Homo sapiens: one gene and its partner. The protein of the gene in region 1 purifies or fractionates together with the protein of each later gene. This does not show direct contact. Each region holds a gene or a part of one and is shown in the gene's direction. Other genes may lie near its edges.

Region 1 (4,262 bases):
TTAGGGCTCACAAGCTCATGGGGTGACAGACCTGGCCCAGCTCTCCTAGAGCGGGGTATAGAGGCAGAGTCTAGACAGCCCGTCAGGAAGCCACCTCGGATGCAGGGGTGGGGCGGGCTTGAGGGCCAGACAGCCAAGAGGCCCCAGTAACCCAGAGCCCCTGAGGGGTTGTACATGCCAGGGAGGGGGCAGGGTAGGACGGTGGGCCTTCATTGTCCCCTGAGCACCACCTCCCTCAGCCTGGATGCCCAGCCCCGTGATCCACGGCAGCGCCATCGACACCACCTGTGTGCACTGGGCCCTGAGCTGTGGGCGTCGAGCTGTCTGTCGCTACTACAATAATGACCTGCTCCGAAACCGGTGAGACCTGGTTTGATGGCTTGTGGGAAGGGTGCTGGAAATACTCTCAGAGTCCCAGGCAGGATACCAGCAGGGAGGGGAGGTTTCATTTAAGTCTACCTGCTAGGTGACAGGTGTCATTATATATTCAGTGCTGAGCTCACCAGTCCTTCAAGCTAAACACTGCCCCCCTCCTTTTATAGATGAGGAAAGTGACAGTTAAAGCAAGTAGCCCAAGGTCACACAGCTAATAACTTGCAGAGCTGGGCCTTGACCACAGAGTCTATGCAGGAACTTGGGGAGAAACAGAGGAGCAGCCATGCTGCGAGAGGGACTTGGGGTGAAGGGCTGGGGAGAAAGCCCTGTCTAGGACACAGGAGGCCTGGGTTTCAGGCCCAGCTCTGTCTCCCTCATCATGGGACTTATCTTGTCTGGGGCTCAGTCTTCCCATCTGTACAAAGGGGAACTCAAAGGAACCTGAAGGCACAGAGGCGGCTGGCCTGGGATGGATGTGGAGAGGACTTGCTAGCAGGGCTGGGGACAGGGAGCTGGTCACTTTCAGCTCTGAGGAGGTGAGGAGGGCACAGTTTCTGTGGGCTGGGACTGTCCACAGGGGGCTTCCTAGAAAAGGAAAAGTCAAACAAGGGCTTTGATAGTTAAACAGGGGAGAGGGAATCCGTTTGTTCTTGTGGCAGGTGGCGCAATATAAAATTGCACTTGTCAGGCCCCCTGAGCCCTTGGGCTCGGAGAGAGGCAGGGCCAGGCCAGGCCACAGAGCAGAGTCCAGGACAGGGCGATGAAGATGGCCAGGCCTCTGCTCCCACCCAGGGCTCCTCTGCAGAGCCTCTCCCCCTCCTCCAGGGAAGAGCCACAGCAGAGGTCAATGTCTCCCTGAGGCCTCAGTATCTCTGATTTCACAATGAGTGATGACTGCTGACGTCCATGCCCTGGCCTGGCAGCTCTTGAGTTCAAGGGTCCCCATTCTTTCCCCAGGTTCATCGGCCTCCAGTTCTTCTTCAAAACAGGTTCTGTGATCTGCTTCGCCTTAGTTTTGGCTGTCCTGAGGCAGCAGGACAAAGAGGCAAGGACCAAAGAGAGCAGATCCAGCCCTGCCGTAGAGCAGCAATTGCTAGTGTCGGGGCCAGGGAAGAAGCCAGAGGATTCCCGAGTGTGAGCTGTCTTGGGGCCCCACCTGGCCAAGAGTAGCAGCCACAGCAGTACCTCCTCTGAGTCCTTTGCCCAAGATTGGGTGTCAAGAGCCCTGTGTTCCATTCTGGCTCCTCCACTAAATTGCTGTGTGACTTCAGGCAAGACATTGATCCTCTCTCAGCCTTTGCTTGCTAGTCTGAACCAAAGAGTTGTTTGGGCATTTGCTGTGTTGGCCATTTCTGGAGCAAGAGGGTCTTCTTCCTCCTTCCCCCAGCCAGCCAGCTGTCCTGGGGCCAGGCTTTCCTGGGTGGAAAGAAGTATACCTTTCCCTGGGGCCCTAGGATAGCAAAGTGAGCCATAGTGGGCCAGGCTGCCCTCCATGCTGGGCCCCAGCCCAGGTCTGCACTCGCCTGGATCACCTTCTTTGAGCCTTAGCCATCTCCTGTCAGGTAGGAATGAACTTGCCAGCCTTCAGGCTCGTTCAGCTATGACCATCTGTGCGGTCAGGGTACACTCAGCTCTCCTCCCCAACTCCAGCAGCCTTTAAGAAGTGTCCCTTTGGCGCCCCCTGGAGGCAGAGCACTGAGCTGGACCCTGGGTAGACTCCCACAGGGAGGACGGAGCTGGCCTCAGGAGTGGGACACCCAGACTTGGCAGGGCCTTCAAGAGGCCTGTGTGGGGGCCCCAGGAATCCTTAGCTGAAGCGGGGAGACTCACTCTCCATCTCAGGAAATTCTAGCCCTTGCCCTCAGGGAGCCACGGTTGAGGGTGAGGCCCAACACCTGCCTTAGGGCCCTGGGTGGGCAAGTCTGGGCCCTGGGGTAGGGAGGGAGACTCAGGCCCACACTTGGGTATTTTCTAATTTCAGACAAACACACACTCAGCGCGCACTCACTGATTCCTACACATTGCCAAGATTTCACACATGTGACCAGGGGCCACCAAAGTCCCTGTGACCTTTGTGACTAGGATCCTAATTTCTCTATTTTCTCCTGGGTGCCTGGGTCTGTGTCACCTGGGGCAGTGTGGATAATGTTTAGTTCTGTGACACTGTTTTTTGGGGGTGGCACCTGGTTCTCCGATGCCTGGGCTGGTGTCAGGCCCAGGACTGTAGTGCTGGGAGCAGTAAAGCTCAGCTCTGTGTAATGAGTGATGCTATGGCTTGCTCGTGTCTTATGATCCAATCCTTTTCTACATCAGCCCTTGTTTTGTTTTATGGCTAGTCTTATCTGGCCTGGTTATTTCCTTGCGGGGAGGAGAGGGTTTGCTAATCTGCTCCCAGCCCAACCTATTACCACCCCACCTCGCTGGGACCTACTGCTCGGGAGGCAGCAGACAGGGAGCCACCAGCAGTGGCTTCCTGGCCCTGTGCTGGGGGTGGGGGGAAGCTGGGGGCACATGTGGCCCTTGCCTTCTGAGCAGCTCCCAGTGCCAGGGCTTTGAGACTTTCCCACATGATAAAAGAAAAGGGAGGTACAGAAGTTCCAATTCCCTTTTTATTTTGCTGGTTGGTATCTGTAAATGTTTAATAAATATCTGAGCATGTATCTATCAACGCCAAGAATTTCAAAGTCTCCTTCAACAATATGAGGCTTTTAGGATGTTTATATTCCTTCATCCCTCTTGTTTCCCAGGTTTTGCAGGGAAAAAAAGTCTGGAATTATAGATACAGCTTATTATTAAATTTGTTCTTGCATAATGTCTCTTCTATTACAAAAATTCTTTCTTCATAAACTGCATTAGAGGTTTGCAACAACCACATCATTTCCATTAACTTAGATTTAGGTTTTACTGGATTCATTGCTCACCATTATTGCTTGTATATTACATCTTTTCCAATCTTTATATTCTGGTCTAATTTTTGTTTGAGTGTCTTCGTCTACTAATGGTTTCAAAAATGGAATAAGGTCATGAGGATTTCTGAATCCTCACCTGTCCAAATTGTCATTCACATTTTATAGAAGAGGAAACTGGCTCAGAAAGCACAAGTGACTTCCCCAAGATCACACAGAAAATAAATGATGGAGCCAAGGTTGGATGTGTAGACCTTGTGGGAACTGAAGGTTTTATAATTTGAGGAGCCCTCTTTAAGAAAAATATACAAAATTATGAATATAAAATTAGGTACAAGGTACCTATATTTACCTATAATGAGAAAAGAAATCAAAACAGATACATCACACAATCCCCCCAAAATGCGTAATACTTTTATTAACTGCCCTGCTTAACCTCTGAGACACATTTTCTCCCCCTGATGATTAGAAGAATTTTCCACAGACTAGCTTCTGGCTCTGTACATTTCAAACCTGGTTTCTCCTGTTTCTTGTCTACTGCCCATATACTTCCTGGGCTGGGTGCCATGACACACATTCATATCACGATATGACCTCTGCATATGGCAACTTAATATCACCATGCCAAGTGAGCTGGGCAGTGGGTAGAATTCCTAGAAGCTATTCTCTACACAGAGATTACTAGCAATGATTTATCTATACACAGAGAACCACATAAATATTAATATATCCTCTGTTTCAGAAAACCACATAAACATATCCCAGTGAACCCAACTCAAATCAGTCCCCCACTCAGCTTCCCCTTGGTCAGATCCCAGAAGTGCCCATGGCCACTCCAATTATCCCACATAAAGGAAAATTGAAACACAAGGGAAGTTGGAGTGGGAAGAAAATAGTAATTTTGATTGTGGTTAAAGTATCTTACCTTTGCAAATTTTATAAAAATATGACAACGTGAACACATCGCTGAGGCCCTCCCTG
Region 2 (3,819 bases), on another chromosome or scaffold:
TGTACTCCAGCCTAGGGGACAGAGTGAGACCGTCTTGAAAAAAAAAAAAGAAGAAAGAACCGGCTGTCCACATGTAGTTTTGCAATGAATGTTGGTTAATATTTTTGCTCACCTTAATGAGGAGTAAGACCAGGGGTTGGCAAACTTTTCCTGTAAAAGATAAGGTAGTAAATATTATTGGTTTTGTGGTTGATGTGGTCTCTGTTGCAATTATTAAACTCTACCATTTTCGTAGGAAAGCAGCCACAGGTGATACTAAACAAATGAGCATGGCTGTGTTTTGATAAAACTTAATTTTTAAAAAGAAGGTGAGATGAACTTGGCCCACAGACCACAGCTTGCTAATCTTTAGTCTAGATGAAATAATAAATTAAGACCTTATTTACAGTATTCGCCTGTAACGTAAAAACTCTCAACATGGCTGATTTCAAGTAACCAAAGGGTTACTTGAACAAGGAGTTGGGAAGAGATGTATCATTATATAAAATTTCCACCATACACATACAGCAGACATGAATAACTTCATGAGCTCACATGACAGAAAAATGTAGCAAAATAATTAGAAAATGATGAGTTTTTAGTATTTATTACCTTTGTCTTTAATGTAATTTAATTATACGTTTATATAGTTTTAATTTTTAGTAATGGCTTGCACAATTCCTGAAAATGTAACAATCACTTCTCTCAAGCCAGCGCAGGCCAGCTTCCCCTGCACCACTGACTCTAGCACTTACCAGATTTTGGGCAAGTTATTTACCCTCTCTAAACCTCAGTTTTCACCCTGTAAAACAAGAATAATATTAGTACTTAGCTGAAAGGATCTTGGTAATTTTTTTTTGCCAGACTGTTGTTGGCACCTTAAACTGCTCTGATATATAACATGTCCAGTTCCCTTCAAGTCTTATCGACCTTATATTTTCTCATATAAACCATGTTAACTAGTTACATAGATATAAAATCATGCCTTAAAGTTCTAACTTGCATTTATTTTTATTTTTTGAGAAATGAGGTCTTACTTCATTACCCAGGCTGGTCTTGAATTGCTGGGCCCAAACAATCCTCATGTCTCAGCCTCCCAAAGTGCTGAGATTACAGGTGTGAGCCATGTGCCTGACCTTAACTTGCATTTCTTTAAATTTTTGTAAAGCTACACATTTTCCTCCATTTGCCTTACTTTCCATATTTCTACGTGTGATTTTCTTTTCTTTTTTTTTGGAAACGGAGTCTCACTCTGTCATCCAGGCTGGAGTGCAGTGGTGTGATCACTGCAACCTCCACCTCCCGGGTTCAAGCGATTCTCCTGTCTCAGCCTCCCGAGTAGCTGGGATTACACGTGCTACCACACCCAGCTAATTTTTTTTTTGTATTTTTAGTAGAGATGGTGTTTCACCATCTTGGCCAGGCTGGTCTTGAACTCCTGACCTCAGGTGATCTGCCCACCTCAGCCTCCCAAAGTGCTGGGATTATAGGCGTGAACCACTGTGGCCGGCCTACTTTTCTTTATCAACTAAAGTAAGTTCTGGATTTTGAACCTCATTTCCTTTCTCCTGACCAACTCTAATAGAACCCACATAGATTTCTTGTTTCCAGTTCTCCCCACCTCCTGCCAATCTATCCTATATAGCTTCTACCAAAACTACCTAAAGTATGTCTGAACTCCCTTATATCACAAACCTCTGTAGCTCTCCAGTTGCTCCTGAACAAAGCCAAACTCCACAGCCTGGTATTCAATTCTCCCCAAAACCTCTTCCCCACAACCAGGATCTGTATCCAACTTGACTTTCCAACATTAACTCTTGCAATTCCCTTTCTAATGCCACCCTATGCTCTAGTGAAAGTCAACTATCAACTGTTCCTTATATGTAATCCCCAGTTTCCTGCCTCCATGTCATGCATGTCATTACATCATTGCTTATGAGTGTACTGTCTTCATTTTTTGTCTTTGTGCCCAAATACAACACATATTTTAAGGCTCAACTCAAGAGCAATCATGTCCATGAAACTTTCCCTGATGCTGCCTCTCCTCCCCTCAACCTCACTGGCCCCAGTACTAAAAGGTCCCTTCTTTCTCCAAACTTCCATAACATTCTATCTGACCCTCTCTTATAACACTTTAAGCTTTTGACATTTTGTTATAGACTTACATGTATATTATATCCCCTATACTGGACTGTAAATACATTGAGGGCAAGATCAATGTCTATTTCATCCTTTTGTCTCCTATAACACTGGAAACAATGCTTTACCCATAGTTTATACTTAAAATGCCATAACATTCAAAATTCAATAAATACATGTTAATAAGTTATGTATATAATCTAGATAACAGACTTTGTAATTTCTTCATGTGTACATTTTTCAATTCTGTTTTGTTTCTGTATTGATTTTTAAGTATTTATTTCTTTTTCTTCTTGTTCTTTTGTTTGATTAACTCTGATGATCTGGGGTGCTTTGTAGGGAGTAATCTGACATGTAGCTTTAAGCTGATGCTTTTCCATACTGATACCCACTTTTCTAGCAAGTTATTAAATTGTGAGTTCTTTCTCTATTCTGATGTTGCTTCGACTTTATTAAGTTAATGTGATGATTTGGATTTATTTTTAAATCTTTTGTTTCACTGACACAGTTCTGAGTACTTAACACGATATCATTGTTTACAATGTACATTAAAACTTGATGGCTCATGTATTTGCATTAGTTTTTCCTTTAAAAAATATTCCTTGGGGCTGGGCATGGTGGCTCATGCCTGTAATCCCAGCATTTTGGGAGGCCAAGGCAGGCAGATCACTTGAGGTCAGAAGTTTGAGACCAGCCTGGCCAACATGGTGAAACCTAGTCTCTACTAAAAATACAAAAATATGTGGGCATGGTGGTGGGCACCTGTTCTCCTAGCTACTCGGGAGGCTGAGGCAGGAGAATTTCTTGAACCTGGGAGGCGGAGGTTGCAATGAGCCAAGATCATGTCATTGCACTCCAGCCTGGGCAACAGTGAGACTCCGTCTCAAAAATATATATACTATATATTTTTTTTGTCAAATTTTATTTTATTATTATTATTCTTAATTTATGTTTTTGGGACTGCATGCCATAGTTTAACTGGTACAGTTTTTTTTGCCTTTTTAGTGTAATGTTTAATAAAGCATAGCATGCATACAGAAAAATAAACATAAGCCTTAATGAATTTTCACAAAGTGAATACAACCATATGACCATCGACCAGATGAAGAACCAAAACATTATCTGTACCCAAGAACCATTTTATGTTTCCTTTCAGTCAGCCTCCCTAAGGGTAATCATTATCCTGACTTTTAGCATCATAGATTAATTTTGCCTGTGTTTGGACTTTATATGGGAAGTCTAATTTATACTTTAAATGAAAATATACCATATATATACTTTTGCTTCTTTTGCTTTACATTGTGCTTTGGAGATTCTTCCATATTATTGCATATATTGTACTTTGTACATTTTTAATTGCTGTATAGTATTTCATTGTAAGAATCTACCACAGTTTATCTGCTCATTTTACTGTGGGTCTGAATTTTAGTAGTTTCTATGCTTTTGCTATCATAGTGCAGCTATGAACATTTTTGTGCATGTCTTTTAGTAAAGATAAATACACCTTTCTACTGGGTATATACTTTGGAGTGGAATTGCCATGCTATAGGGTATGTGTAGGTTTATGTAGCTTTAACAGATGCTAAACATATTTTTAGCAAATTTCACTCCCCTGGCAGTGTTATGAGAGCATGTCTTTTTTCATTGTCTCCATTGTATGTGTGTAGTATTATCACATTGTAGCTTTGGTTTGTATTTCCC

The links.
Region 2: the proteins of SLCO2B1 (region 1) and SLC28A2 purify together in Homo sapiens (affinity purification with mass spectrometry; one large-scale study listed by BioGRID and IntAct). This does not show direct contact.

Annotation. Positions count from the first base shown.
Region 1 is NC_000011.10:75,203,068-75,207,329, forward strand, and holds the end of SLCO2B1 (solute carrier organic anion transporter family member 2B1), read left to right. Parts: intron 1-239; coding exon 240-360; intron 361-1,332; coding exon 1,333-1,513; 3' UTR 1,514-3,482; downstream 3,483-4,262. UniProt on the Homo sapiens protein: Mediates the Na(+)-independent transport of steroid sulfate conjugates and other specific organic anions.
Region 2 is NC_000015.10:45,255,218-45,259,036, forward strand, and holds part of SLC28A2 (sodium/nucleoside cotransporter 2), read left to right. Parts: intron 1-112; exon of another isoform or gene 113-150; intron 151-734; exon of another isoform or gene 735-781; intron 782-3,819.